2 linked regions of the Homo sapiens genome follow. The protein of the gene in region 1 interacts with the protein of each later gene in a pairwise test. Each region holds a gene or a part of one and is shown on either strand. Other genes may lie near its edges.

Region 1 (15,205 bases):
AAAACAAATCCCAGGGAGTTTGTCCCTAATTCGGGAGGCACAGCTTTGCAAGAGGGTTGGGTGCTGTGGCTGCCCCCGCCCAAAACCTGTATTTCGCCGCTGCCCGGATGGCCCCACCTTGCAGGGAGCATTGAAACTTCAAGTCCTAAGTGCGGCGGGCCTGGCTGTGGGTTGGAGGGCTTGGGTGGTGGTGAGTGGACGTGGTACAGTTTACCAGCAGTCTAAGCGCCCCCCCCCCCCCACCCCGGAAATTGCCCTGGGTTTGGCCATTCTTCGCCTGACGCCCTATTCAAAGTCTGAGCGCGCCAGTGTCCAGCGGGAGCCCAGGCCCCTGGCGCATCCTGGTCAAAGGATCCAGGAAGCGCGCTTTGAGGCTGCCGGCCTGGTTAACGCTGTTTCCAGGGAGAGGAAAGGGGATGCTGTGTGGTGCTCTTTCCTGAGAAAGCTTTGCTATGGTGGAGTGGGAGTTGTGTAGTTTTGGCAATGTAGAGCTAGAAGGCCTGGGGTGGGGGGTGCTCCCAGAGGAGGGGAAGGGGAGTGGGACTGGTGTGTGTGCTCTTGGTGGTTGATTTAAAGAAACCCCTTTTCGTAAGCTTCTCTTAAGGGTTATGTGGAATGTCTAAGGTAATCGTAATTAACTGCCCTGGTACAGAAGATCTGAGCTGGGGAAAAGAGGTTTGGAGAATGCGTTGAATAAAAATTGTCAATATCCTGAAAGGAAGAGAAAAAGTGGAGACCCTATATAAGAAAAAAGAAAAAGAAAGAAAGAAAAGTACTCAAAAGCCCCAACGCCAAACGCCAAAGGTTATATATTAATTATTATATCCCTAGGAGTGGGGGAGGATTTAAATCTAAGAATGGCTGCTCAGTCTCTCTTTCAACTTCTGCATCCAAGTGAAAACAAAACTCTTTATAATTGCAAAAGAAGATGGCAAATGATAATAGACAAAGGAAGGTAGTTTTTGTCTTTACCATTCTTTGTTGAGGATAGACTGCTCATAGTTCAGAATCTTTATCCACTGTAATCAAAGTAAATTGTTTCTTTATGAAACATTACCCACCTCCTATTAGTGCCACTAAGATTATGTGAACTAGAAAAAGGAAGCTAAGTGCCCCATGCTCAGTAACATATCCACAAAAGTTATTATATAGGAAATGCTTAGAATATATATTTGTGGGGTACAGTGTGATGTTTTGACATATGTCTGCATTGTCAAATGATTAGCTAACAAATCCATCATCTCATGTACTTTTTTTTTGTGGTAAAAGCGTTTAAAATTTACTCTTTTAGCAATTTCAAAATGTACAGTGCATTGTTACAGAAAGGTGGCTGTAGTAAATAACAATGCATTTTGCATTTTTAGTATTATTATTATAGAAATACCTTGCTTTATTGAATGTGTTTGGGGTTTTCTATCCTAGGCAACAAATATAGTAATAAAATCAAACATGATACTACGTTTGGATGGGAGAAGAATGAAGAAAGATGGAAGGAGCACATATTTTGCATATTTATATAGAAATTTTTTAGTTTATGATTGTGGCTAGAAGGAATTTCTGATATAGTTGTTGATTGGTTAATGTCTTAAATCTCTGTGTTTCTTATTAAGTAGACCGGATGTGCTGCTATAAGAGACTCAAACGCCAGAAATGCTGTATAAATAAATAACTAGATCTTAAAATTCCAAACAAATCTTGTCCAGCTTCCTGGTCTGTTATTTTGGCAGTTCTATTGCTATAAGCAAAGTTAGCAGGTGAGCCCTCAATTGTATCAGAGATGCCTATTAAGCACACTACTTTACACTGTATTTCTTAATTTACTTTTTTTTGGCTTATAAACAGAAATTTATTTTCTCACAGTGCTAGAAGCTGAGAAATCTAAGATCAAGGTAGATTTGGTGTCTGGTCAGGGTCTGCTTCCTGGTCCACACACAGCTGTCTTTTCACTGTGTCCCCACATGGCAGAAGAGTGCTTTATTTTTTTAAAAGAGTGGTGCTTTTTTGGGACTCAACTCAAACTAAGAAGTAACTTAGACTTTGAGTGTGATGCACTGTAAACAGATTTTGTTTCTTTTTTAGATGGAAATATAAGACAGATATTGATGTTTTAATAACTGTTTTTCTGAAAAACATCACCAATCATGCCATCTGGACAGATATTCTGTTATTTATTTTTATACATTGATGGTAATTAAAATTATCCCAGGAACATTTCCAAAAATATGTCTCAGCAGTGTCCTGGAATGAATATAAGTTTAAACATTATTAAAACTGCACCATAAAACTCCATCAATCCTCTATTTTCAGGTGTTCTCATTGCTTCTGTCCCTTTTGTGGCGTGGAAATAGTCTCATCAAAATAACACTGTCTTCTAAAGTTACAACTTCATGTCTAAACTGATAATGGACATGTGAAATTATGTGTGTTGACAAGGGAACATTTAATACACCGTAGGTAGGCTACGACATGTTAGCGTTGTTAATCATAAAAGTGCCATCATCTAATAACTTTATACAAAGAATGTTAAGAGCAACTGTTCTGTTTTTTCATGATCAGTTATTTTATTACTGGAAACTATTCAAAAGGAGCATACAATAACAAAAGGAAAAAAGAATGGTCCTTTGTTTAAAGAAAGAATTTTAAATAGAACATCTGAACAAAATGAAATAGAGGTTAACTCATTGCCTGCTTTGGAAATTAACTCATTGACTGCTTAATATATGGAAAGCAAAATCAAGAACATGATGGAGAATGGTCAGGAAAAATCAGTCCAATATGATTTGCTGCAGTGATATCAATTTATAAATAATTTGACTTAAATTTCAAGATAATTACAAAAAGCATTTTCCAATTTACTTTACATGGACCATATTGTTTATATGTCCTCATTTTTCAAATGCTAAATGTGATGCTGTATTGGAAAAACATCTTCTAAATTCCATTTGGAGGCTAGATTAACTGTCTTCACTTTTGGATGTGTTTGACAGATGTGTAGACATTTTTTATTTGGAGTCATTTCCAGGTAATCCCCTTCAGAAGGTATAAATTTCCATCTTCTTTCTTTTGAGAAAGCTACAGTTCTATTGAAATGGTAAGGAACATTACACTGTGCCATTACTATCTTTAAAGAAACATATAAGATGAATAAAAGAGTTTGGAAAACTAATGCAATTTATTTCTGTGGGCATATCCTCTGGATACAATCAATACCATTTCTGGAAGTAAGTACAATATATGTTCTTTAATATAGGGAATTCAAATTAGGTTAAATTAAATTTAGGATGCTTACATACTTTTAAAATACATTGATAAATATTATAAAGGCTTTCAGGTTAACTTTCCCTTCATGAACTTACTGTTCCAAGAAAACCACCCTGCTCATTGCCCTGCTCATAGGCTCTCCTCTCTCCATCTCTTTTTTACTTCTGATTCTGAGGGTTGAGAGAAGCATTATTGGTTATCTTGCCCATTTTATTGTCTATCCCTGGGAGCATGGATTGCAAGGATTACAGAAAGCTTTTATTATCTTTTGTAAAGTGAGAAACCATTGCGGTTCAATTCAACTTAGTAGACTTATGTTAAATGCCTCCTTTGTGTAAGGATCTGTGCTAAACACAGGTCAGTCATGACTTCCTAAAACATGTGCACCTTTCTGATTCACAGTATTTAATTTAGCCAAATAGTTCCTTTTGTGTTATTTTTCATTTTCTTCATTCCCAAGTTATTGCTGGAAGCTTGACTAGAAGGGAATTATAATAATCTAACCCCATGGGCACAAGGGTATGAGTTAGTTTTCTGAGATCAACACAGGATAAGTAAATATGAGCACAGCTTGCTCAGACTGTGAAAGACAAAATCTGTCTTTTTGTCTAGCTGTGAAAAACAAAATCTTTCTCTCCCTTTATTTCTATCATCTATCTCATTCTCTACATCTTCAAAGAAATAACTGGCTAAATGTTACATCAAGATCTTTGGATTAGTTAGTTGTGATTTTATTCAACAATTAGATTATTTCAGTGGTGACTAAGGGAGTTTTGAAAACGATGCTGGAAAATTTAGAGGGCAGTGAAAATAAAAGACATTTCAAGAGACAAACGTATCTACATAGGAATGCTCTAGGCTAAAGTCATTGTAAAGAACATGGTCCAAAAATGAAAGACAACCAGTTTTGTTTGGTTAAATAATATTTGAGGGCAAAGAGAACAGTGAGAAGAGTGTGAGCCAGAGAGGCCCACTGTTTGTGGAAGATGCTGTAGTGATAGGGTATGAGAAAAGGGAGGGAAGGGCTTCTCAATTCTTATTTGAGCTCCCTAATTTAAAATGGACAGTGATTCTTAAGTTGGAAAATTGAAACATACAGAAAGAGATACTGGGATCCCAGGATAAGTAAACAGAAGGTAAAATCTTGTATTACTACTTTGATGAGATCAGTTCTTCACATCCAACTACTTTACATCTCATGGAATTGAATGAGTGTGCTGAGCAGCTTTAAATTCATTCCCAGTATCTTTGGAGAATAAGACTAGGGCTAGAAAAGCTGAAATTGATAAGTGATTTTCAAAAAGGGGAAAATGGTGGATTCTTAAAACTTATAAACCAATATATTTGACACTGACTGCTGGTAGAATCTAAGAATGTGTTATTATGCTAAATATTCATAGACCCTTAGAAAAGAATGAATATATTGTTCAGAAATTCCCTCTAGTTCACTAAAAAATAATGCCTGTACAACATTATTTCCCTCTTTTTCAGATTTTGAATTACCAACATGTATGTAGCCCTTCCTATGTCTAGGAACTCTGCAAAACGCTCAACTGACATAAAGATATAGAAAGCATGCTCTTTAATTTATAAACTGCACAAAATTTCAAAGGATGGCTGATATGCTACAGGGTAGCATTGCGATGAAAAAAATCTTGATTTTAATGTTTATTCAAAAGCAACAAGATAAATCTGTTTATTAAAATTATTTTTGTCCCGATTTAAAAATTGGGGGTGGGTAGAAAATACATACACATGGTATTAAAATCTAAAAGGTACAAAAGGGTAAGTAGAGAAAAGGAAGTCTTCACACCTTACCTTTCAACAATCCATTGCCCCTCTCCAGAGGTAACCATTGTAATTAGTTTTAGCAAGAGAGCATTACTTATGATTATACTACTATTTATTGAACTCTTGCTATATGTCAGGCTTTGTCTAAGCACTGAGGATTATAGTACAGAAAAGGACAGATAAAAGCCTCTCATCCATAAACTATACTTTTTTTTTCTTGGTGGGGGCAAGGGGAGAGAGTAAGGAAGGGCAACAGAGACCAGAACATCTATATCAAGGGATGATTAAGTATTGTGAAAAAGGTCAAAACAGAGTAATGGGAATGAGAGGGATAGTCAAAGAAGACCTCTTTGATAAGGTATCTTTAAAGCACAGACTTGAAGGAAGTGACACAACAGTCTTGCAGATGTCTGAGAGAAGAACATTTTGGGCAGAGGGAATTTCCTTTGCAAAGGCCCTGGGTGGGAGTGTGCCTAGCACATTGAAGGAACCACAGGAAGAGCAGTGAGGTGGAGTAAGCAAGGGGAGAATGATAGGGGATGAGCAAAGGGTCAGCGGTAGAGAGGAGTGGATAGATTAGGTCCTATAGGCCCTTGTAACAGCTTTAAATATTACTCTGAGTGTGATGAGAGCCACAGGAATGGGAGAGGTGTTAAATAGAGAAGGAACATATTTAGAGTTCAGTTTTAAGTTTAATGACTCACTCTAGTCACTGCGTTGAGAATCTAACATGGGGGTGGTGGTGGTTGGTGTGGAGCAAGAGTGACCTACTAGTAGGCCATTGCAATAATCTGAGAAAGAAATCATGGTGGCTTGCACCAGAGTAACAGCATTGGAAGAGGTGAAAAGTGGTTGGATTCTAGATATATTCTGAATGTATGTAATGTGTTAGAAAGAACACAAGGGACATGCCATGATTTTTGGCCTGAGTAAACACAAGAATGAAGTTGTTATTAGCTGGGGTTGGGAAGACTTTAGGAAGAGCAAGTTTTAGGGAAAAAACAGGAGTTTGGTTTTACACATGTTAATTTTTGAATGTCTGTTTGGTGTCCAAGTGGAGATGTCAAGTAAGCAGTGTAGAGTGGGGCTGGGGAGTGATCTGATCTGCTTATATACATTGGGAGTTGTTGGTGTAGAGATGAGATCACCAAGGGAGTGAGTGTTGACAGTGATGAGGTCAAGGAGTCCTGGGTCACTCAAATATACAGAGGTCTTTCAAAGAAAACTGAGTAAAAGTGGGCGACGAAGTAGGAAAACTGAAAGAGACTCCAGAAGAAAAGATAAATATATGTCAAGAGGAATAGAATGATTGATTCCGTCAAATGCTGCTTGTGGTTAAGATAGAGACTGAGAGCCAGCCACTGGATTTGACAATGAGGAAGTCATTCAAAGTGCCGGGAAAAACATCTCGGTTGAAATGGTTTTAGAGCAAATGAGAGGGGAGAAAATAAGAGATGGTATTTGTAGACTTGACTCTTTGGGGGAGTTTTGTTATAAAGGAAACTGAATAAGAGGTAACTGTATGGAGAGTGAGATGAAAAGAAGGGAAAGTATTTTTTTTTTGCTATGGAGAATATTAAGGCATATTTGCAAGATGATGTAAATGATGCAGTAGTCAGGGAAAGATTGGTGTTGCGGGAGGTGGGGGCATTTCCTGAAACTGTGTCTCTGAATGAGTAAGCAGGGATGGATCCAGCACACAGACAAGGGCTGATATTGGATAAAGGTGAGGACAGTTCATGGCTATAATGGAGGAAAGACAGAGGAGAGGGCACACCTGCAGGGAGTGGTTGGAGATGGGGCTGAGAACAGGTGGAAGTTTTCCATTAACTGCTTCTATTTTATCAATGAAATAGGAAGCAGGGTCAACAGAGTGAAGGCAGGAGTGGAATTGTTGAAAGTTTGAGAAGAGGGGAGAAGGTATAAAATTGTCGTTTGGGAAAATGAGAGAGTGAAAGGACTAGGGCAAACTGAGGGAACACTGAGTAGCCCTTGGGGCTCACTTAGAGCTTAAAGTGAGACCAATCACTGTATATGTTATCTTGTTTTTGGTTTAGAGTGCAGGGTTAGTTGGATTGATTTTTGTTTTCCAGTGATCCCAGTGGGAACAGATGGGAAATGGATTTGAGGATATATGCAAGGCAGTATATAGATGCTTGGTCTTGGAATCTGCTGAGGAGGAATGAAGCATAGTAAAAAGATGACATAAGCAGTGGATTGTATATGCTGGCAGGGTTGCTAGAGTAATGGTACTAGAGTAAGGGAGATGAAAGGATAAGAGATGATGATTTGGTAGCTGGGGTGTTTGAGGTAGATAGTAGGAGGGGTACTATTACTGAGAAGCAGTGGAAAACTGAGATGGAGTGGATGACAAGGTCATTGGAGGAGTCCAGAAGAAAGGTGAAAATAGGAGTGAAACAGTCACCTACATGATTACTGACATCACAATGAACCATGACAGATCCTGGGAATTACAGTAAACCAGACGCTAATGGATATCTTTAGGAAGGGACATAATGGCCTAGGATTCTGCCTAGGGGCTTTTAGGGGGAAGGAAGAACAGTGGCCTGTAACATTATAAATGTAAAATGTTGACTATAAGTTCTGAAAATTCTATTTAATATGTATAGAACGTAGGAGATGCAACTTAAAATAGTTCATGGTGGGGGTTGGGAATTTTGTAATTAGCTAAATATGAGCTAGTGGTATGGTGAAATTACTAAAATATCTTATGTAATTTCAGATAGTATTAATAGAAAGTCTCAGGTGCACATTATACGAGGTAATAGCTCCCCTAGATTCTGTTCTAGGCAGGCCAAATTTGGATTCTCATACTAAAGGGTAGGTGCCATGTTTTGAGAGACATTGACGAGCTATAATACGGTGAGAGCAGGGCAATTGGGAGGCTTTTGGAAAACATGCCATTTGAGAGATAGTTAAAGAAATTAAGAATTTTTATCCAAAAGAAAAGAATGAAGATCTGAATGTTAAATACTAGAAGAACTTTCATGAAGCAAAGGAAGAAGACTTGACCCAGCTGATTTCACAGAGCAAAATTAGGACTAGTGATGTGGAGAAGTAGATTTCTTCTGAATGAAAGAAAATGTTCTAATAATTAGAACTGATCAGAAAAGACAGATTCTCTCCCAGTTAGTGATGTTCAAGCAAAAGCCAGGTTGCCATTTTAATGTGGGGAAAGCAGAAAGGAAGTCATTAGTTACACTAAGATGTTTATATCTTCCTAAAAGACAACAGTGCCCCTAACTTGACATTGTTATTGTTACATTATTACTTGTATTAGTCCATTTTCACACTGCTGATTAAGAGATACCCGAGACTGGGCAATTTACAAAGAAAAAGGTTTAATCAACTTACAGTTCCATATGGTTGGAGAGGCCTCACAATCATGGCAGAAGGCAAGGAGGAGCGAGTCATGTCTTACATGGATGGCAGCAGGCAAAGAGAGAGATTGGGCAGGGAAAATCCCCCTTATAATACCATCAGATCTTGTGAGACTTATTCACTATCATGAGAACAGCATGGAAAAGACCTGCCCCATGATTCAATTACCTCCCGCTGGGTTCCTCACATAACACGTGGGAATTCAAGATGAAATTTGGGTGGGGACACAGCCAAACCATATCATTCTGCCCCTGGCCCCTCCCAAATCTCATGTCCTTACATTTCAAAACCAATCATGCCTTCCCAACAGTCCCTCAAAGTCTTAACTCGTTGCAGTATTAACTCAAAATTTTATAGTCCAGTGTCTCATCTGAGACAAGGAAGTCTCTTCTGCCTATAAGCCTGTAAAATCAAAAGCAACTTAGTTACTTCCTAGATACAGTGGGGGTACAGGCATTGGGTAAATATAGCCATTCTAAATGGGAGAAATTGGCCAAAACAAAGGGGCTACAGTCCCCATGCATGTCTGAAATCCAGCAGGGCAGTCAAATCTTAAAGCTTCAAAATGATCTCCTTTGACTCCGTGTCTCACTGATGCAGGAGGTGGGTTCCCATGATCTTGGGCAACCAGGTCACACTGATGCAGGAGGTGGGTTCCCATGGTCTTGGGAAGCTCTGCCCCTGTGGCTTTTCAGGGTACAGCCTCCCTCCTGGCTCTTTTCATAGGCTGGCATTGAGTGCCTGTGGCTTTTCCAGGCACATGGTGCAAGCTGTCGATGGATCTACTGTTCTGGGGTCTGAAGGACAGTGGCCCTCTTCTCACAGCTCCACTATGTGGTACACCAGTAGGGAGTCTGTGTGGGGCTCTGACCCTACATTTCTCTTTTGCACTGCCCTAGCAGAGATTCTCCCTGAGAGCCCCACCCCTGCAGCAAACTTCTGCCTGGACATCCAGGTGCTTGCATACATCCTCTGAAATCTAGGTGGAGGTTCCCAAACCTCAATTCTTGATTTCTGTGAACTTGAAGGCTCAATACCACGTGGAAGCTGCCAAGGCTTGGGGTTTGCACCCTCTGAAGCCAGAGCTTCAGCTTGTCCCCTTTCAGCCATGGCTGGAGTGGCTGAGAAGCAGGGCACCAAGTCCCTAGGCTGCATACAGCACGGGACCCTGGACTCACCCATGAAATAATTTTCTCCTAGGCCTTGGGGCCTGTGATGGGAGGGGCTACTGTGAAGACCTCTGACATGCCCTGGAGACATTTTCCCCTTTGTCTTGGGGATTCACATTTGGCTCCTTGTTACTTATGCAAATCTCTGCTGCTGACTTGAATTTGTCCTCAGAAAATTGGGTTTTCTATCACATTATTAGGCTACAAATTTTCCGAACTTTTATGCTCTGTTTCCCTTATGAAACTGACTGCCTTTAACAGCACCCTAGTCACATCTTGAATGCTTTGCTGCTTAGAAGTTTCTTCTGCCAGATACCGTAAATCATCTCTCTCAAGTTTGAAGTTCCACAAATCTCTAGGGCAAGGGCAAAATGTTGCCGTCTCTTTGCTAAAGCATAACAAGAGTTACCTTTGCTCCAGTTCCCAGCAAGTTCCTCATTTCCATCTGAGACCAGCTCATTCTGGACCTTATTGTCCATATTGCTATCAGGCTTTTGGTCAAAGCCGTTTAACAAGTCTCTAGGCAGTTCCAAACTTTCCCACATTTTTCTGTCTTCTTCTGAGTCCTCCAAACTGTTCCAACCTCTGCCTCTTACCCACTTCCAAAGTTGTGTCTTTTCAGTATCTTTTCATGTTTTCCAGTATCTTTTCAGCAGCACCCCACTTTACTGGTATCAATTTACTATATTAGTCAGCTTTCATAATGCTGATAAAGACATACCTGAGACTGGGCAATTTACAAAAGAAAGAGGTTTAATGGACTTACAGTTCCATATGGCTGGAGAAGCCTCACAATCATGGTGGAAAGCAAGGAGGAGCAAGTCATGTCTTACATGGATGGCAGTAGGCAAAAAGAGAGATTGGGCAGGGAAACTCCCTTTTATAAAACCATCAGATCTCGCTATCACGAGAACAGGATGGGAAAGACCTGCCCCATGATTCAATTACCTCCCACTGGGTCTGTCCCACAACACGTGGGAATTCAAGATGAGATTTGGGTGGGGACACAGTCAAGCCATATCATTATTTTAAAATTATTCCATATTTCTCAAAAAATAAACCACATACTAATGAAACTGGAAACTGTGTGCATCACAAAAACCATAGTTACCCCAAATTGACTACTTAAAATGTGCTCTTCACAGACTTGTGGCCTTTTAAAAATCCTCCTCTAGTTCTCCCTTGTCAAGAAAAGTCCATAATGTGACATATTTGCTTCTTAAGAACTATATAATTTTATCCAGTTTTGGATTATTAACATAAATATAAAATATGTTATCTGCAAGTATCTCTTTTATTCTTTTTGCTGAATTATCTTCTTCATTTTTTACTGAATCTAGTTTCATAAATATTCAACATATTTTAAAATGTTTTGGAAATTCATTAAATAATTTTGTAATGCTAAAAGCATCATACGATCCTTTCCTTCTTTCTCTGCCTCACTATCTGTATATTTATGGAAGATTATTCATTGGAAAACTATGTTTCCTGGGTTGCTTAATGAATTAAATTTTTAGCTGGAAGAATTCTCCATTCTAATTTCCGTGTCCAATCCCCAAATGCCTTTTCTAATTCATCTATTGCATGAGATTTTTTGTAAAATCTGTTATAGACCAAATTCTTGCTTTCTGAGTTTGGAAAATTTGTTGACGCTCACATTCTCCAAAATTCCTAGAATTTTGTTTTATGCATAGCAAATCTTTGGCTTTCTAAAAAAAAAAAAAACTACTCTTGAACAACAGAAAATTATGTGTATTTGAATGATTCCTGATCTAGTTGACAAGCAAAGGAATAGAAAACAATGTCATGTCTGCCTTTGGCATGAATTTTTCAGCTCACTCTGAAAAAATCAGGGCTTCTCAAAATATGGTCTATAAACTACCTGCTCCAACATCACATGGAGTGACCACAGACCTCATCCTAGGGAAGCAAGCCTACCAGGTGCATGTTAAAGCTGTAAGAAGCACTGATTTATTGGCTTTCCTGCTCATGCTTGGCATTTTGTAGGAGACGTGGGGAATAGAGGAGCATGAGCCATGTACCCTTTCCCCATTTCCTCCTGGGCGTATTACCATCCAGTTGGGAGATATGGCCAACTCCCACAAAGCAAAGATGAATAACTCAGGTCAGCATGCAGCTTGTTGCTTGGATGGATGGTACAAGCTATATGTGTGACACGAATTTCATGACTGTATGGGTTCCAATGTACCTGGTCTCTTGAAGGATGGATAGAATTGGAAGGGGGCAGAAGTGAGCAGAAAGGCAGTCTGAGTATGGGGATGATGACAAGGAAGTGAGCAATGATGAGCCTAGTTTCATAGCTTATCCAGATGAGGAGAAGGAAGATTCTGGAGGGCTTGAGGGCTACTCAGAACTCTAGTCTCCTTTCTTATGGATTCTGGGATCTTTGCAGGCTTATATGTAAGGGAAGTAATATCACAGAGCTATGTTAAGGAAGATTAGTCTGACAGTAGAATAGAAGATGAATTCAATGAGGATAATTCTAAAACCTGCGAGTTTTGCTGGAAGAAAGCCAACCCAGTAACATCAATTTCAGGGCCTCTAATAAGTAACCATGGGAATAAAGAGGGAGGTACATGGGAAGAAAGATGAGAGGCTTCACAAGAACAGTCAACAGGACTTTGTGACTAACACACATTATCTGGGGACGAGGGGAGGAATAAATAAAAAATGGCTGCAGTTTTGTGCCCTATGGCTGGGAGAATGTTATGCTATAGAGGGTGGGAGGGGGAACTGGCTAGAGGAGAGAGGATAATGAATTCACTTTTAGTCATATGAGGCTTGAAATAATGACAAGCCATTTGAATGGAAATTTCTACTTGGCAACTGTAGATAAAGAAATGGATTTTGTAGGTGACAACAGGATTGTTGATATGGATTTAGAAAATTAGAAGAGAAGCCATAGAGATTATGTAGTATGGAAAGGACAGAGGACCAGGGACAGAGCAAATACTCCTTGCCCCTCATTAAAAAAGCTTAAAGCTTTAGCTTTAAGCTCCCTGAGCCTCAGATTCTATAGTTAGGTATATATGGTATTAGGTCTTGTGGAGTGCCTGGCAATCATATGGTAAATACAGGTACTCCTATTATTATAGTATCACAAAAGCCAAGATGACGTGGTACAGAATGAGCCCTGACTGAGAGATCAGATTTATCTAGTCTTGGCTTTGGTACCTAATATCATGTCAATGTGGGCAAGACATATGACTGCTTTATGTATCAGTTTCTTCATATATGACATTGCATGAGCACAGTACTGTTCTGGCTATCTTACAGGGTTATGTGAAGATAAAATGGGATAACACAAGAAGATGCATGGAAATGGCAGATAACTCTGTATCTATAAGGTACTATTAATAGGAAGCCTGGTCAGTAGCGTCAGATGCCATAGAGAATGAAGATTGAGAATGAACCTCAACCTTAGATGTTTTACTATAAAATGCTTGCTGTGCCAAGCTGGACCTCAGCCAAATAGCAATGGGGAAGCTCAGGAGAGCAAGGAAGGATTGGGGGTGGAGAGAAGTCGGTTTTGGTAATCCACATGGGAAGACATTTTGGAGGAGGGCAGTAGGAGTGGTGATCTGCTGCGTTTCCCATGTCCTGATGAGTGATCTGTGAGTACAGGGCTGAGGTGTGCCCGTGGGGACCAGCTGGAATGAGGGAGGACAGCAGATGGAATCTATTCTGATTCTCCTATTCAGTGGAAGGGCAATAAGCCTAGGAAGCTGTCCCAGGTATGTGTGGGAGTTGGTCTGGAAGAGGCTGCTTCTCTTACCAGAGAAGGCAGCACAGCGAAAGCTAGCTCCTGCTACCCGCCAGTACAGGGCTAAATCAACTGGCCCTGTGGGCTTGTGGGAATCTGCAGGCTAGTCTTATAACTCAGTAGATTAAAGTCTTATATAAAAACATGATTGCTCTAGAAAGATGGAGTCTCTATCCCTTCTGCTAAATACAGCTAAAAATCCTGGACATTGCATATAAAATAAATAGAAAGGGACTCTGAAAGGTGAATGAAGAGAAGAAGACAGTCTTACTAGAGATCATGGGACCTGTGGAAGGACACAGCAGTGAGTTCTCGGGGTTTTCTGTTTTCATCCTATATCTCAGGCTGGATACTGGAGAAGCCAACAAGCAGGAAATGCCAATGGGCACAGACAAAAAACACCCACAAAAAAAGCCTGCTGTTTCTAGCGAAAGGACCAGAAAACGGCATCCTAGCAGGATAGAAAACTTTTAGACAGTAATCACTGTATCCAGCCAAACACCATGAAATAAACTGAGGTCCCACCTCCATGCCCACCACAAAAGCCAAGGAGGGAGCCTAGACTTCCACCTTTCTGAGGATGTAAGAGACACCCAGCACTAGTAAGGCTTTGGCACTTAATTCACCTGCCAGCTAATGTGGTGTTAGAGGAAGCCTAGAGGAGAGTCAGGAGTTTCATCACTGCTCAGTGATGAGACTGAGTGGAAAACCTGGACTTCTATTTAAGCAATATATATAGTCTCAAGACATAATACCAAAACTGTCCAGATTTTAATGGAAAATTACAAGAACCAGTAGGATATGAACTTGAATGACAAAAGACAATCGACACCATATTAACACAGATGGTAGAATTATCTGAGAAGGATTTTAATGTAGCCATCACAAAAATTATTCAACAAACAATTACAAACACACTTGAAATAAATAATAAAATAGAGAGTCCCCAGCAAAGAAATAGAAAGTCCCAGCAAAGAAAAAGAAAGTCTCACCAAAGAAATAAAAGCTATAAAGAACTAAATGGAAATTTTAGAAGAAACACAGTAATCGAGATAATTTTTATAAAAGCCTCAGTAGGTGGGCTCGACAGCAGAGTGAAGAGGAAAGAAGAAAATGTTAGTGAATTTGAAGAGAAACAATAGAAATGACCAATCTCAACAACAGAAAGAAAACAGAAAATAAAAGGGGATAAATAATAAAATCCCTGTTCTCTGTAGCACAGGAATGTTTAGACGACATGTTCCCTTTTTCAAATGTTCATTGAGTATTCATATTAATAGGGTACAGTGAAAACAGACTGACAGGTATATTGCCTCATGTTTGCTAAATGCACAAAATCTAAGCCATATTGGTCCAGATGGGGGCTTCAGGGAAAATAACCATATAGTACTACTTTTAGTTGTTGAGATGTTTTCCACATTTACAGTACTTACTGATTTCTGATCTGTACTTATATGCACACATAAGCTAAGTTACTTATGAAACAAGCATTTCTATAACACTTACAATGTGTTCTGGGCTGTTTACATTTAATCCTATCCTTAATCTCAATAAAGTAGGTATGGTTATTTTCCCCATTTTACAAGTAAGCAAACTGAGATAGAGAGAGATTGAGTGACTTACCTATGATCATATAGCTAGTAAGTGAAGCATCCAGATTTGATGAACCTTGGCAGTCTGGATCTAGGGTTCATGCTCTTAATTATTTCACTCTGTTGCCTATTTTAGGCTTTTCTTGTGCAGCATCTATTTTTTTTTTTTTTTTTTTTTTTTTGAGACGCAGTCTTGCTCTGTCTCC
Region 2 (16,086 bases), on another chromosome or scaffold:
TTGGGACATTATTTCAAATGAGTAAACTCTAAATTGTTAAATATTTATGCTGCTATAAATTAGAATTACCTATTCTACGTGCCTTTTCTTAGGAAAAGAGAGTACTGGATCATGGTTTTCTTCCTTACTTACAGGTTGCTTCACACTGAGTGATAATTTAAAATTGTTTCTATGTAGAATCATTGTCTCTACTGTTGCCCTCTCTGTGTCTGCACACATAATGCCTCTCTCACTTTGGTGAAATATCAAAAAAATGCAAGTACAGCATGCATATTTAAGAATTTCTGAACTAACACTTGAAATCACATTTTATAAAGATTGTTGGTACTCAGAGTTGTATTTGCAGCAGAAAATGCAGAATAACCCAGAAATGGAGCCCGGAGCCCAATTCCAGAGAGGAAGGGAAAGAAGAGACGATGCCTGGACAATGTCTTATACATAGGGAACAGAGAGGGAATCAGAGGTGGCTTAGTTCCCTGAAGACAGCCTTATGCGCTTAATCCCTGCCTTTGAAAAATGGGCCAATACACAACACAGACAATAATTTGAAGCGTCTGTATTCAGCAAAGATAAATACAGCAGTCCAGTCTATAGGTGCTCTACTTAGCATTCTTTTCATGTGCTCCTGGTCTCTGTCTCACTCACCTACTTTCTACTACATCCAACTCAACTCCCTGACACCCTATCCCCCCATCTATTCTTAAACTCTTTCATATATATTTTCACTTCCTAATTCTAGTGTACATATCCCTGTATATCATGGTATCTGTGGGCATATGTCTGTTTCTTATAAAGACACATATTTGTGTGTGTATGTGTGTGTGTGTGTGTGTGTGTGTATAAGCATACATGGGAATTTTTCTGAATGTAAGCAGTTTTGATGTGTCTGTATATCAATCTGTATCTACATTTGATGGACTGAGTAAGAATGTTGCATGTGAGAGAAGGGATGTGACTGTGGACTCAGATTGACACACACAGATTGGTGGAAGAATAGCTTCAGTCCTCTTCCTTCATCCCATATGTAGGTAGCCTTGCTTGACAAATGTTTCTTCTAACTCTCCTTCTTCTGAATTGTGCAGAGACTCTGTTAACTTCCCTTTTTGCACTTAGATAACTTCCTACTTCAACCCCCTCCTTTATCTTGGATTTCTAAAGTTTTTCCCCAATATTGGGAATGGTGAGGGTGGGGATGAGAGACTCTCTGAACAATTCTTGCAGAACCAGTGACAATCTTATGAATATAATGAATAAGTAAGCATATAGTAGGGTGATAGAATACAGATAGTAGAAACAAAGAGAGGACAGCAAACCTTTTCAGCACTTCTCTCAGAGCAAATGGAAACACACAGTAAGTAGCTTTCTGACTACATTATTTTCTGGTCACTTTTAAAGAAAGTTTACAACCTGTTCTGAAACTATTTGTCTTTTCACTGGTTGTAAGTGTACCCCAATCTCAGGGAGTATATCTGTAGTGCCACAGGCAAAAGATCCACTCCTTCCCACACTCATTTGCCTGAACTTACTCGAAGGGCTGCATTTCTCTGAGTTTACGAAATTGTGTCATTATGGTCCCCATACAGTGGTATTTAACTTTTAAAGCAACTTTTAAGAAAACTCGACTTGTTTTTTGTTCATTTTAAGTGTGTGGTACTAAAAAGACATGTTAGACTTTTTTTAAAAAAGCACTTATGTTTTGAAAATAGAATAAATAATAAGAATTTCCAATTAAATCATGTCTGGTGCCAATGTGCAAAACTTCACATGTGTTTTTGTGATTGGAGTTTATTTCATGGCTTTATTCTACATACTCTGCTTAATTATACAGTACAGTCAAAGCTCATTCATTGGGTTGAAGTAGAATAATATTAATATATTAATACATATATAATATATTATACATTTCATAATATGTTAGATAATATATGTAAAGAAATGCAGTTTAATCATTCAAATACATACCCACTCAAACAAGGCTTACTAAATTCAAGCGGGCTTATTGACATCTGTAGGGAACATTTTCTTTTCTTTTCTTTTCTTTTCTTTTCTTTTCTTTTCTTTTCTTTTCTTTTCTTTTCTTTTCTTTTTTTTTTTTTTTAAGACGGAGTCTTGCTCTATCGCCCAGGCTGGAGTGCAGTGGGGTGATCTCGGCTCACTGCAACCGCTGCCTCCCGGATTCAAGCGATTCTCCTGTCTCAGCCTCCCGAGTAGCTGGGATTACAGGCATGCGCCACCACACCCAGCTAATTTTTTTTGTATTTCTAGTAGAGACGGGGTTTCACCATGTTGGCCAGTCTGGTCTCAAACTCCTGATCTCAGGTGATCCGCCTGCCTCAGCCTCCCAAAGTGCTGGGATTACACTCGTGAGCCACCGCGCCTGGCCTGTAGGGAACATTTTCTGATGAATGAGTAAAACATTTTTACTCAGCCTTTCAATTGTGTACAAATGGTGCTTCTTCCCTAATGAAGGGTATTTTAAAACAACTTGTTTTTCTAAATATTAAAAATATTTGGCAGAATCTTGTTTGTTTATACTATTCATTAGCCTTTTCTATAACAGGATTTATCCAGCAAGGATGAACATTGTCTCTACAGTTCCATCCTGGTTAATGAAATTTTACTACATTCTGGGAATCTTACACAACTGGTGGGGCAAAAGTTGTTCTTCACCACAGCTGGCAAAACCTCTGCCATTCCTTTTTCTACTTACCAAGTACCTAGTGTCTGCACTAATGCAGTGGAGATTATTTTCCACATGTAGTCTTCATTTCCTTTTTATTTATTTAATTTTAAAAAAATACAGCCATCAATTTTTATTCTTATATTTGGTAGACATTCATTTCCTTTTTAACTTGAGTAACCTCAGGTGTTGGTTTGTCCAGGGCAGCCCCCATTTATGCCTGTTTTACTGGCATAATTATCAATAGCACTGTGTCACTCTCAAAAAATGTCTCAGTTTGAAAGATATGGTCACCCTATATTTAGCAGATGTGTGATTTCTTTTAAGGCTAAGCCAAAAAACCAAGAACTTATTCTCAAACCACTAGTAGTACTTGTGCAGTAGTGGTATGGGGGTAAGGATGACAGTAGGGGGAAACTCCCTTCCCCACCAAATATAGAAATATTTGGCATAATGGCTCTTAAATAACCAATATTTGAGCACATACCAAATGCCATTGTTATATAGGCACTTAGCGTGAGCCATTTTATCTTCACAATTGCCATGTAAGATAGATACTGCCATCTTACAAGTAAGCTACCTGAGGCACTGAGGGTTTAAGTAAATTGCCCCAAATCAATCATCTAATAAGTGATAGAGCTGGAAGTTGAACCCATGCAGTCTGACGCTAGCGATCACATTCTCAACAATGACACTCTCCAAGGAAAATGACATTAAGGGGGTGGTGTGACAAGGGTCAGTTGAAGACAGTTGAAGTGTCACTGGACAGATAGTGAAATGAGCAGAGAAGACTCTGCTCATTCACTGAAGGGTGGTGCCCTTGTAATGTGTTTGCCTCCCCTTCTGGGGAAAAGCAGGGGAAAGCACCAAAAAAATATGGCACAGCCCAACCTGAACTTACCGGTTCGAATGTTACTTTTAGCAATAATGATTGAGGAAAGTGAGTCAAGTAACTTGCCCTGGGTCACCACCCTAGCAAGCTTTGAAGCCAAGATTCAACCTACTTCCTGTGACCTCAAGTCCTCCAACTGCAAATAAAGTGCATTGAGAAGGGTTTTCTTCCCAGTTTAAGAACCATATGGGTGTTACGAATGTGGAAAATTGAGGTGAGGGACCTGTGGCATGATGTGTGCTCTTTCTTAACCATGAGCAAGCGTCTAGCCGCCCTTTGAGATTAGCTGCAGGAATAGGTTGCCAATTCCAGAGCATTGTGCAACAATTTATCTTTCTCCATAGCTGAATCATCTTGCCACATTGCATGGGGTACTTGGATAGTGTTTCCAGTTTAGAGCCATTCAGCTATTTGTTACTAGATCAGAAAGGACACATGAAACAATACCTTTTCATGTCATCCAAGAAGAGTCCAGAATTTAGGGTATCAGTTGGCCAGTCTATCTCCTGCCCTCTTTCCGCTGCCTATCCCTGAAGGCCCAGAACAAGTCTCATTTCTCCTTATGTTGCCCGTCATCATGATCTCACCTTTCAGTCAACTCCTGTAGCTTCTCCTGTCTATAAACATGTGCAGTTTTCTCTTATCTTAAAAAAATTTCTGGGCTCCGACGTCCCCTCAAGCTGTTAGACTAACTCCTTCCTTTCACAATCACATTTTTTCAAAGAGGAAGCTACACTTAACTGTGTTGGCTTCACTTCTTAAACCCCCACAATCTGGCTTCCTCCCCACCTCCTGTTTTGTTTTGTTCCATAGGGCACCAGTGAATTTCTAATGACAAAAAGGGGTCTTTGACCATTCCTTGTCTTCTTTCTGACATCTTTTTCTCCTCTAAACTCTTACACACAGGCATTTCCAAAAATGACACTCTTCTTCCTAGCTCAGAGGTCTTCACCAGAGTCTGGGGCAGGTTTTGTGACATGATCTGATTTACTTTTTTTTGGAGGTTCACTCTGGTGGCTGCAAAGATAATGGGTTGTAAGGCAGCAAGAATGGAAGCAACGCCCAGGTTGATACTGCAGAAAGTCTAAGTGAGAGATAATAGTATCCAGACTAGAGTGGTGGCAGTACAGAGTGAGAGAAGTGAATGTATTTAAGGCATGTCTTGGACATAGAACCAATGGAAATTTCTGATGGACTGGATCTGCAGGTGAAGGAAAGGAAGAAACACAAATAACTCCCAGGTTTCTGACTTAGGCAACTGGATAGATGTTGATATCTTTACTGAGCTATGAAAGATAGAAAAGGAGTGGAAAGAACTTGGGTGGGGAAATTGGGAGCTTGGTTTTGAAAATGTTGTTGGATATGACTGTTAGGCATCCCAGTGGAGAAAGCCACATCCCTTGCCTAGCTCAGCCACTCTTATGACTTCAGTTTTCTCCTCTTTATATGGAAAAGTGTGTGTGTGTGTATCACTGCAATTGTTTAACCCACTAATTTCTGAAACACTTTTCAACACTTTTAAAATCAGAATCTATGTCTATTCTGCCCTACTGTATGAGTTCTTCCTCCCGATTGCCCTCTTTCTTATATTGCTACCTCTAGTCTTTTCTTTACCCAGAGTTTACATTTAAGAGTTTTCAGCAACCCTTTTCCATCTTCCTCCCTCTCACCAATATCCAAGTAATAAAAAAGTCCTGTTGAACCTACCCTGTACATTATTTCTCCTTTGTTCCCATTGCCCCCACCCTAGTTTAAAATCATTATCACTTCTTATTTGGACCATTGTGGCACTCTAACTGCCCCTAGCCTTTTAATGACTAATCTTTCCTACACACTGCTGCTATAGAAATCTTTTTTCCTTACTATTTCTGTCTAAATATGTTTTCCCATTTCCCACAGAATGTAGTCTATTCTCTTTAGCCTGGTATTCAATGTTCTTCATGATCTGGCCCTTTTAGCTAAACTCGACTAGAAATTTTCCCTTTTGTGTTACTGTTTATGCTGTTCATTCTAGTCAGCATGCCCTCTCCTGGCTCCCATCTTCACCAAGCAAAATCTTGCCCACCTCCTAAGACCCTCTCAAATGCCATCAAAGATGAATTCTAGTTACCATTTATTAAATGCCAGTTATTTAGTACTTAATGCTTATTTATTAAGTAGGCTAAGCATCCTACATTCATTGACTCTGCATTGCCTTTGGTTTCTTGTGTACTTGCCCCATCTTCTGTATAAGAATGCAAATTCTGGCTGGGCGCGGTGGCTCACACTTGTAATCCCAGCACTTTGGGAGGCCGAGGCGGGCGGATCACGAGGTCAGGAGATAGAGACCACGGTGAAACCCCGTCTCTACTAAAAATAAAAAAATTAGCTGGGCGTGGTGGCGGGCGCCTGTAGTCCCAGCTACTTGGACAGGCTGAGGCAGGAGAATGGCATGAACCCGGGAGGCGGAGCTTGCAGCGAGAGGAGATCGCGCCACGGCACTCCAGCCTGGGCGACAGAGCAAGACTCCTCTGTCTCAAAAAAAAAAAAAAAAAAAAAAAGAATGCAAATTCCTTGAGAGCAGAGATCACATCATAATTTACCTTTGAATCCTCAGCTGTACTGTACACTTAATATCAGATAAATGTTTGATGAATGAATGACTGCAGAGCTTTTAACTAGTTACTATGGGAAGACATAAATTAAAGAAACATAAGATCTTACATTCTAGTTACAGAGCACATCACCAAAACACCCCCAAGATTTTCAGAATAAGTATTGAAGGGATACAAAATGGAGGGTGAACAAAGTTATATCATAACACAAAGTCATCCTGGACGAATCAAGTTTATATAATAAAGGGAATGTTCAAAGGCTTCAGTGTCAGGCTGACCTAATTTTGAATTCCTACTTATCTGCTTGTTAAGTATGTGATTTTGAATGTTGTTTCTCTAAACTGCATCTGTAAAATGGGTGTATTGCAACCTCCTTTATAGGACTGTTGCAAGGATGAAATGAGATAATATGGCCAATGTGCATGTCACAATCTTCAATAAATGTTTAAAGTCTAAAAAGCAAGCCAGACTTTAAATATAGTAAGGATATTAGGTTGTCCCAGTGGTGTTAGTCAGTCAGTTTAGGTTGCCATGAGAATTAAGATCCTGAGCACTGGCCAGCTTGTATCAGATCATAGGGGCCTCCAGGAACCTCCAAATGCTGATGGTAATTCTAAAACCGCCTCAGATAGTCTTAAACTGGACCCTCACACCAAACCTAAAATATTTCCCTAATCTATGTTTAGCTGCAGAAACAAGAGGAGGTAGGAGGAGAAGAGCTGCAGTTTCCAAACACCACTGCTTGCAACCTTCCTACCACATGAATGTTCAAGGAGTTACATTTGACATCATTGCTTGATCGGAATCTACCAAGCAATTTCCACTGCACCAGCCAGTCTCTTGGGAAAGTACTATCAGATTTGCCAGAGTAAATTATTGAGATTGTTAACTCTCATGTGGACATGGATAGTTAATGATGAAAAGAAATGAACTATAAAATTGCATCACAGAATTTACTGTGTAAACTTTTCAAACCATTTGTGCCATTAAATAGCGCCCCCACCAAAAAAAAAAAAAAAAAAAAAAAGCCTATCCTTAGGATAGGCAGCTGATGTAGCTGGATGGTGGGGGCTCTAGGTGGCCACGTTCTATCTGTGTTTATATGGTTAAATGGATGAAATGGATGTGTTTGCAGATTGAAACAATTCATAAAGAGTTGAGGCTACTTTTTTTTTTTTTTTTTTTTGGTCTTAGCGCTGAAACTAAAAATCGCGGTTATTTTAGTGTTTAGCCCCGGCTCTTCCGTTGCTCAAACCTCCGGAAACTACATCTCCCAGCATGCTGTGAAACTGGTCTGACTTCATCTCAAATGGCCCCGTAGGGCAACAAGGATGGTTAGTTTTGACCCTACTTATTTGTGCCATAAAAACAATCGATCCTAATTGACAGCTATTTGGACTTTTACATCTGCCAAACCCTTTTCCTTGAACTGTGGTCACTAAATGAGGGGAGTCTGGTCTGGGAAGTCCCATCCATTCCTTCAATAGGATGGGGAGCGGTGATAGTGTCTCCGGCGATCTCAAGAATAGGAGGGAATGTTGACCAGGGAGCACCGCTGCGGCCGATCAGAGGAGCAGGAACTGGAACCCTGGCCGAGTCCGAAAAAAGCCAGATCTGGAAGGTGGCTGCGGAACGGTTTTAAGCGGAAGATGGAGGAGCCGGAGGAACCGGCGGACAGTGGGCAGTCGCTGGTCCCGGTTTATATCTATAGTCCCGAGTATGTCAGTATGTGTGACTCCCTGGCCAAGATCCCCAAACGGGTAAGGGAAGTCGGGATGAAAGACCATGGGCTTTGGGGGTGGGGGTGGGGGCGGTGGACGAAAGAGCGTTAGGAAGCGGAGAGGACACTGGGCTGGGGGAAATCTTCAGAAATTTCGAGTAGCTGTATCAGATACCTAAAGCTGTATCAGAAGGAAGTGTTCTCATATCGTTTCTGAGAGCGCAGCATGTCTCTTCGGGACGTCCAATGGACAGGTAGGAGTGGGGGAGGGGGTACGGAGGAGGGGAGAGGACGCAGTTTCCACTCATAGGGGACCGCTGAAGTCGTGGGAAAACAAGCTGCAGGGGGAAGGTGTTCCATCACCTGCCTAAGGCCCGGTAGCTTTCACCTTAGTGATTTTGATACTTTGTATCTGTATTGTCTAAAGTGTATTGTAACTGTTAACAGAAGGGAAGCCAGTTGAAACAAAATTAATCCGTTCCTTTGTTCAGGATGGTGAGATTGACGGGGATTTTGCTGAATTAAACTTTAAAGAGACTATTTCTGCTTTTCTTTTTTTTTTTTTACGCTGATGTTTTTAGGCCAGTATGGTGCATTCTTTGATTGAAGCATATGCACTGCATAAGCAGATGAGGTAAGTTGTCTTTCTTGAACATAGCCCTGAAGCTAGGTGTTCGTAGCCTTAATATCCTGCTTCACAGTGGGGCAAGGAAAAGAATGGTCTTTTGAAAAAATTATTTTAGCTTTCTGTGAAAGTATTCACAGTGTTTGTAATCTGCCTGTAATCCCAAGAAAGCTCTTGAAGAATTAAGAAAACTTGGGGGGCCGAGAGCATGGCTCACGCCTGTAATCCCAGCACTTTGGGAGGCCTAGGTGGGTGGATCGCCTGAGGTCAGTAATTTGAGACCAGCCTGCCCAACATGGCAAAACCCCGTCTCTACTAAAAATACAAAAAAATTAGCCGGACGTGGTAGCGGGCGCCTGTAATCCCAGCTACTCGGGAGGCTGAGGCAGGAGAATCGCTTGAACCCCGGAGGTGAAGGTTGCAGTGAGCCGAGATTGCACCATTGCACTGCAGCCTGGGCAACAAGAGTGAAACTCCGTCTCAAAAAAAAAAAAAAAAAAAAAAAAAAAAAAGAAAGAAAGAAAGAAAAAGAAAAGAAAACTTGGGACAGGGGAGTGGAAAGTGCAGGAAGCAGTTAAGGTTCATTAGAAATACAGCTCGATTGCTTGGTTAAGTATCCCAGGGGTAGGTGCAGTGCATTGTGGAGATTTTGAGTACATTTGGGTATTAAAACCTGTCTCATACAAAAAGGTGTTCAGCTAGGAGGTGTTCCATTTTTCTTTTGATTTCGTTTCATTCTAAGCCAGATTTGAGGGTGTGAGTTCAACCTAAGACTTTTAGACAACCCACCACCAGCACCAAACTTTAATGGGTGAGGCTGGAGACAGATCAAGACCAAAGAAGGCCGGGCGTGGTGGCTCACGCCTGTAATCCTAGTACTTTGGGAGGCTGAGGCAGGCGGATCATGAGCTCAGGAGATCAAGACCATCCTGGCTAACACGGTGAAACCCCGTCTCTACTAAAAATACAAAAAATTAGCCGGGCGTGGTGGCAGGCGCCTGTAGTCCCAGCTACTCGGGAGGCTGAGGCAGGAGAATGGTGTGAACCCGAGAGGCGGAGCTTGCAGTGAGCCGAGATTGCGCCACTGCACCCCAGCCTGGGTGACAGAGTGAGACTCCGTCTCAAAAAACAAACAAACAAAAAAGACCAAAGAAAACTGCCAAGACTGCGCCAGAACTCAAGAGAGAGCTAACTGTTTCTTCCAAAAACATGAACTTGCTGTTTATTGCCATTTCTGTATTTGATGTCGTTATAAGAGCAAATATAACCCTGCCACATATAGGATTACTTATGACAATTTCTGGCCAAATAGGTGAGTGCTCATACCAACTAGTGTGCTATGCTTCATTTATCTCCCAGAAGGTAGTGTAATAATAGGCTTTCAGATTTTATCCTTATTATTAACAAAATCATTTTGTACCTTTTAAAGGGAATTTTTAAGCCTTTTTTTTTTTTTTTTGATGGAGTCTTGCTTTGTCGCGCAGGCTGGAGTGCAGTGGCGCGATCTCGGCTCATTGCAACCTCCGCCTCCCAGGTTCAAGCGATTCTCCTGCCTCAGCCTCCCGAGTAGCTGGGACTACAGGCACGTGTCACCACACCCATTTTAAGCCATTTTTTAACCCATATGGTTTGGTTAACATAGTAACTATATGCCTTCCATTAAAGTTATTTAACATTTCAAAAAATTATTTTATGACAAACAAGATATCAAAGCAAAGCAAAACTGTCCAGTTTGCTTACTGTTAAATAGGGAGGTTTTCAGTAAGTGTTTTTTAACATTTACCAAAATAAATGGAAGGGTACTAGAAGAGGGAGCTTTTAGGACTGGGAAATACGGTCCGAGATATTACAAAATTTTTATTTTAATGGGTAGATTTTTCACCTCTGGTGGTATAGATTTGTCTTCTTTAAGAAGAAGCAAGAATTCTTGGGTCTTGGCTATGTATTTCACTTTTGAGGCCAAACCACAGGATTTCTTCCAGCTACCTTGGTGATAGTAGTAGCCTGTATAGTCGTATTCATTCATCGTAAACTCATGGCTGTGTTCCCATTCAGCAGACATTTAAAACCACTGCTGCCTCCCTGTGGCCCAGGTCAGGGCTCCTTCAACTTGAATGTGTATATGAATCACCTTAAAATGTGTCATCTTGTTTAAAAATCATCATGTTAAAATACAAATTCTGACTCAGGTCTGAGGCAAGTCTGAAGTTCTGCATTTCTAACAAGCACCCAGGGAATGCTGATGCTCCTGGTCTATGGACCACCCTTTAAGTGGCAAGGGCTAGAGAACAGTAGTGGCAGCTGTGGGGTCAAGAAGAGGAAATGGGGAATAGGCAGCTAGAGGTTAGATGTGGTAAGGCCTCTTATTGGGTTAGCTCCCTTTATTCCCTCACTCGCTTCTATTTGTCATTTTTCGTGAGGAGTAGGTTGAGAGGTTCTGAGTGAAGTCCGGTTCCAACCATTTTGCCCCTTCTCGCCTCGCTCTCAGAGGCAGATAGGAGGGTCCAAGTCTAGAAACATTACATTTTGGGTTGCCCATTTTTTATCTGTTAATAGAATGATAGTTATCCACCAAGCATTTTTGTATGTGTTATCCTTTTATCTTCACATAAGTCCCATAAAGTTCCCCATTTTACAAATAAGAAAACTGAACTACAGAACAGTTGACTTATCTGAGGTTATAGAGCTAGTAAGTACAGAATTAGGACAGGAACCCAATTCTCTGACTCCAAATCTGACTCCAAATTCAAAATGCATGATAACATAGCTGCCTATTAAAATAAAGATATAGCTGAAAGGATTAGATAGCCCAATTCGCAACTGGTTCAAATGAAAATATCCCTGCCTACTAGTTTGTCCTGAAAGTTGTAACTCACAGGGTAAAGTCTGTCTGATACCTGATTATTTGTTTAACTTGAATATAATTACTTTTGTTTACTTACCTATAAACTCAAGGGAAAATCTATCTTCTTGCCCCTTATTAATAGAGTCACTACTGTAGATGTGAGGCAGTGAAGACCGCACAGTGCAGTGGAAGAACAGAATATGTTTATTACTCCAGCCTATTGGAACCAGAAGTTGAGACGTATTTTCTTCTCAGACTGCTGGCTTCTGTTTCTAGCTTCTGGCATACGCTGGGTCTGACTCACTGACCTCTCTTTGTTCTCTCTGTTATTATTAGGATAGTTAAGCCTAAAGTGGCCTCCATGGAGGAGATGGCCACCTTCCACACTGATGCTTATCTGCAGCATCTCCAGAAGGTCAGCCAAGAGGGCGATGATGATCATCCGGACTCCATAGAATATGGGCTAGGTAAAGTCATTACCAGGCAGTGATGGGAGATGGACAGACTAATTTTTTTTATAACTTGTATGATTTTTTTAATATTTTTCGTTAAGAAATCATGTGTTAACTGTCAATCTTAATCTTTTGGTTTAGCCACATATAACTCACTAAACAAGCAAACCATATGAGTTGAGCAAAACCACATGAAGGGTTAGATGAAAGAAAACCTTTCAGTTGCTTATGCCCTACTGGCAGTGCTCAGATCTGGTCTGGCTGTGTATATGCTGATTTAGCTGTCCTGTGACCTTATATTTTAACTGGAGTACAGATTTATGTTCTGGCTAAGTTTTTGTACCTCACCCCTCATTAAACAGCTGCATTTTTTAAAACTGTAAGTGACCTGCAGGATAGTCTAGAAAAACAGCATGGTTTAGCAGAGGAACATTGAACTGGGGGGTCAACAGAGCTGGGTCCCAAGCCTGGCTCTGTGTGACCACTGACAAGACACATCACCTCTCAGGCTTGGTTTCTCTATCTGTAGCCTGTGACTAGTTCATCAGGAGGGTTTATCCTTTCTAGCTCTAACCTTTTAAAATATTATATCCCCAACATTGGAGTTGTTTCTGTCTCAGTTGGAGCTGATATTAGCACAGTGGCTTTTTAGTAGGTTAGGTTGTTGTCACACCTCAACCTATTCCTCCTCTTTTTCCAGTTCACCTTTTAACCAGCTCTTCTGATTTTTGCCCTAAGGTTATGACTGCCCAGCCACTGAAGGGATATTTGACTATGCAGCAGCTATAGGAGGGGCTACGATCACAGCTGCCCAATGCCTGATTGACGGAATGTGCAAAGTAGCAATTAACTGGTCTGGAGGGTGGCATCATGCAAAGAAGTAAGAAAATGACCTTTCTGTTTTCTGACTCTTTCCTTGAGTCAGTTTCTCAGTTATGTAAACTCTTATGCTTATTGTATTGACATTTACAGAGAGACGTGTGTGTATGTGGCACTTTACAAGGCATTCTGAAGAAATCCAAGTGAAATAGAAAAAAGATTACCTAATATAGTGGAAAGCACACTGCTCAAAGTCAGGACACCTGGGCTCTACACCTAGTTTTTCTAACTTGGCTAACTGACTTGGACTGATTACCCTCCCTAGGCCTCAGTTTCTTCATCAATAAAATGAACAAAGGATACAACTAGACAGTCTCTAAATTCCTTTTCGGCTTTCTAGAAATTCCCCTGTCTTCGAGGGACTTACAGTCTAGAAACATTAACAAAATTAGAATAGAGAACAACATTAGTTATGGTACCAATGGAATATATGTATGAGCTGAAGAGACTTATCAGTAGAAAGAAATTAATCATGGAAGTCTTGGCAGAAGTGAATTTTAGAGCTAGTTCTTAAAAGAAGTGGCAAACAGATTTTTAAAAAGGTGGAAAATTGACGCTAATAGGTTTAAAACAAAAGGCTGAAGAATCAAGAAGAGGGCTCATGCTCCTCTAATGAAAGTAGCAACCCAGAGGTAGATGTCTCTCAAAGACAAAGGGCTTGTGAAAAGGCTCTTCCTAGGTGCTTCTTGGAGTTAGAGGAGAAGTCCTTTGGAGTGTTTGTTTGTTTATTTGTTTGTTTGTTTTTGAGACAGAGTCTCGCCCTGTCGTTCAGGCTAGAGTGCAGTTGCGCGATCTCAGCTTACTGCAACCTCCTCCTTCCCAGTTCAAGTGATTCTCCTGCCTCAGCCTCCTGAGTAGCTGGAATTACAGGCACCCGCCATCATGCCCAGCTAATTTTTGTATTTTTGTAGAGACAGGGTTTCACCACGTTGGCCAGGCTGGTCTTAAACTCCTGACCTCAGGTGATCTGCCTGCCTTGGCCTCCCAAAGTGCTGGGATTACAGGGGTGAGCCACCGCGCCTGGCCACCTTCTAGAGTTTTATGTTAACATGTCAAACTGCAGTAGTCTGTCTGAGAAGGATTGCTGGGCCCTCCTTCAGCATTTGGGACTTTGTTTGATATTTCTGTAGTACTTAATCCACATTGAAGAAGAAGGATTTTTTAAACTCTGAATTTATCGATCCTCTGTCTGAGAGAAATGAAGCCACTGTGGTAGTAACTGCCAATGCCTCACTCAGGAATCAATTGTTCATGCAATCAACCGTGACCTTAGGTGCTCTTAGGTCAAGAGAAAACAACACTTTGTTTTTCAGAATAAAACACAGCACAACTTCAGCATATGCAGGTTAAGATAATAACAGAATTTTTTCCATCAAATTGACAGATTTTGTGGCCAAGGAAGTCCTTGAAAAAGTTTACTGCTAGAATTTACTAGTTGGGCAACACAGCAAAGGAAACCAATGTTTTAGTAATGAGTCTTACATGGTTTTAAAAACAGAGACAAGCTGCCTTTTGTTAGCTTTTGCTTGCTTGCCTGCTTGCTTTTTTCTTGCTTTGTTTGTTTGTTTGTTTGTTTTTTGTTTTTTGTTTTTTAATAAAGACAATGTCTCCCTATGTTGCCCAGGCTGATCTTGAACTCCTGGGCTCAAGGGATCCTCCATCCTCAGCCTCCCAAGGTGCTGGCATTACAGGTATGTGCCACCACACCTGGCCTCTTTCTTTCTTTCTTGTTTTGTTTTTTTCGAGACAGAGTCTCTCTCTGTCACCAAGGCTGGAGTGCAGTGGTGCAATCATAGCTCACTGCAGTCTCGAACTCCTGGGTTCAAGGGATCTGCCCACCTCAGCCTTCTAGGTAGCTAGGACTACAGGCACGTGCCACCATGCTTGGATAATTTTTGTATTTTTTGTAGAGATGAGGTCTTGCTATGTTGCCCAGGCTGGTCTCAAATTCCTGGCCTCAAGTGATCCTCCCACCTTGGCCTCCCAAAGTGCTGGCATTACACATGACAGCCACTGCACACCGCCTGCCTTTTTTTTAAATTCAAAATAAAGACAATGACTGCTAGGAGAAAAAAAATGACCCTCTCCCCTCCCAGGTGCAGAGTGAAAGGAGAAAGCTAAGCTTCTCTGAACGAAAGACTTCTAGGTCCTCTTGGGCTTGGCAAGTTGAGAAGAAAAGTAGTGTGGCTTCATAGAAAAGGCTTGCTTCTATGAATGACATCCAGTTTATTATGCAATTAAATTAACTGCAGAAGGCCTACTAGGGCCTGGGTCATTTTCCAGTGGAGTACTCTGCTTCTTATTACTGTTTTGCTGCCAAAGGAAGTACACTCTGTCTTGACCCAATCACGACTGCTTCTGGGCTGCACACAGACATGGGGATACCCACATATATCGCCTTAACTGTTGTAGACATCTTTCAGCTGATCCTGCATGGAAACGGACATGCCTGTGATAAATATAAATTACAGAGTCTCTAGAGATTGCCCCAGTTTAGGTCTGAATTCCAAGGTGTTCTTGGCATAACTAGAACCTCTCTGTAGATGGACTACAGGCATTTAGGCCACAAACTTACATCTAGCCAACATTTACCTATTATAATCACAATATTTGCTTAAACTTCCCATCTGCAAATATATGTACAGATTCATACATGCCATTTATTCATTGAACAAGCATTGATTAGGCACCTACTACATGTCAAATGTATGTTTATCATCACCAGTAAGCAGAGATATAGAAATTGAAGCAAGATATATTGTTTCCCCTACCAAGTTTGAAAAAGATTCTTTATTTCAAAATATCCAGGTGGTAGAAGGATTACAGTGAAATTAATACAACCCCTTTTGAAAACCTTGGAAGTGTTAAGAATGGGAAAAAATGTTCATACCAGTTGGGCCAGTAACAATATTCTTGGCAATCTATTCTAAGGAAATAAACCAATTCTACCTGCAAGAAATTTATATCTTAGGAGTAAGACAGCAAATAATTGCATTTGAAAGCTAAAAAAGGATGATTTTCAAAGAATATTCTACAAAAGAAGAGTAACGAAGGACTAATACTATTAGATATTAAGCATCCAAAACTACAGTAATGAAAACACTGGTACAAAAATTAGACAGATAGGTTATAGTACACCCCCCACCCCAACAAAGAGACCAATTATATAGAATTTAATCTATTACAAAGGATGCATTGCAAGTGAATGGGAGTTGAAAGGTCTGTTGAGTAAATGAATGGTATTGTGACAGCTTGTACCATTATACCCTCATCTACTGTAATAAACTAAAATGAGTGACAGCTAGATTGAAAAGTTAAATATTTAAAAAAGCAAATTTTAAACACTAGAGTGAATGGATATTTATCAAGCTTCTAAAGGGGAAGAATTTTCTAAGCTTA

Evidence for each region.
Region 2: the proteins of RTN1 (region 1) and HDAC8 come close enough for resonance energy transfer, tested with the Homo sapiens proteins (one study listed by BioGRID).

What each region holds. Positions count from the first base shown.
Region 1 is NC_000014.9:59,854,616-59,869,820, reverse strand, and holds part of RTN1 (reticulon-1), read left to right. Parts: intron 1-15,205. UniProt on the Homo sapiens protein: Inhibits amyloid precursor protein processing, probably by blocking BACE1 activity.
Region 2 is NC_000023.11:72,564,491-72,580,576, reverse strand, and holds the start of HDAC8 (histone deacetylase 8), read left to right. Parts: upstream 1-7,733; 5' UTR 7,734-7,815; coding exon 7,816-7,926; intron 7,927-8,467; coding exon 8,468-8,520; intron 8,521-11,692; coding exon 11,693-11,823; intron 11,824-12,546; coding exon 12,547-12,688; coding exon of another isoform or gene 12,689-12,692; exon of another isoform or gene 12,693-12,780; coding exon of another isoform or gene 12,781-12,820; exon of another isoform or gene 12,821-12,995; intron 12,996-16,086. UniProt on the Homo sapiens protein: Histone deacetylase that catalyzes the deacetylation of lysine residues on the N-terminal part of the core histones (H2A, H2B, H3 and H4).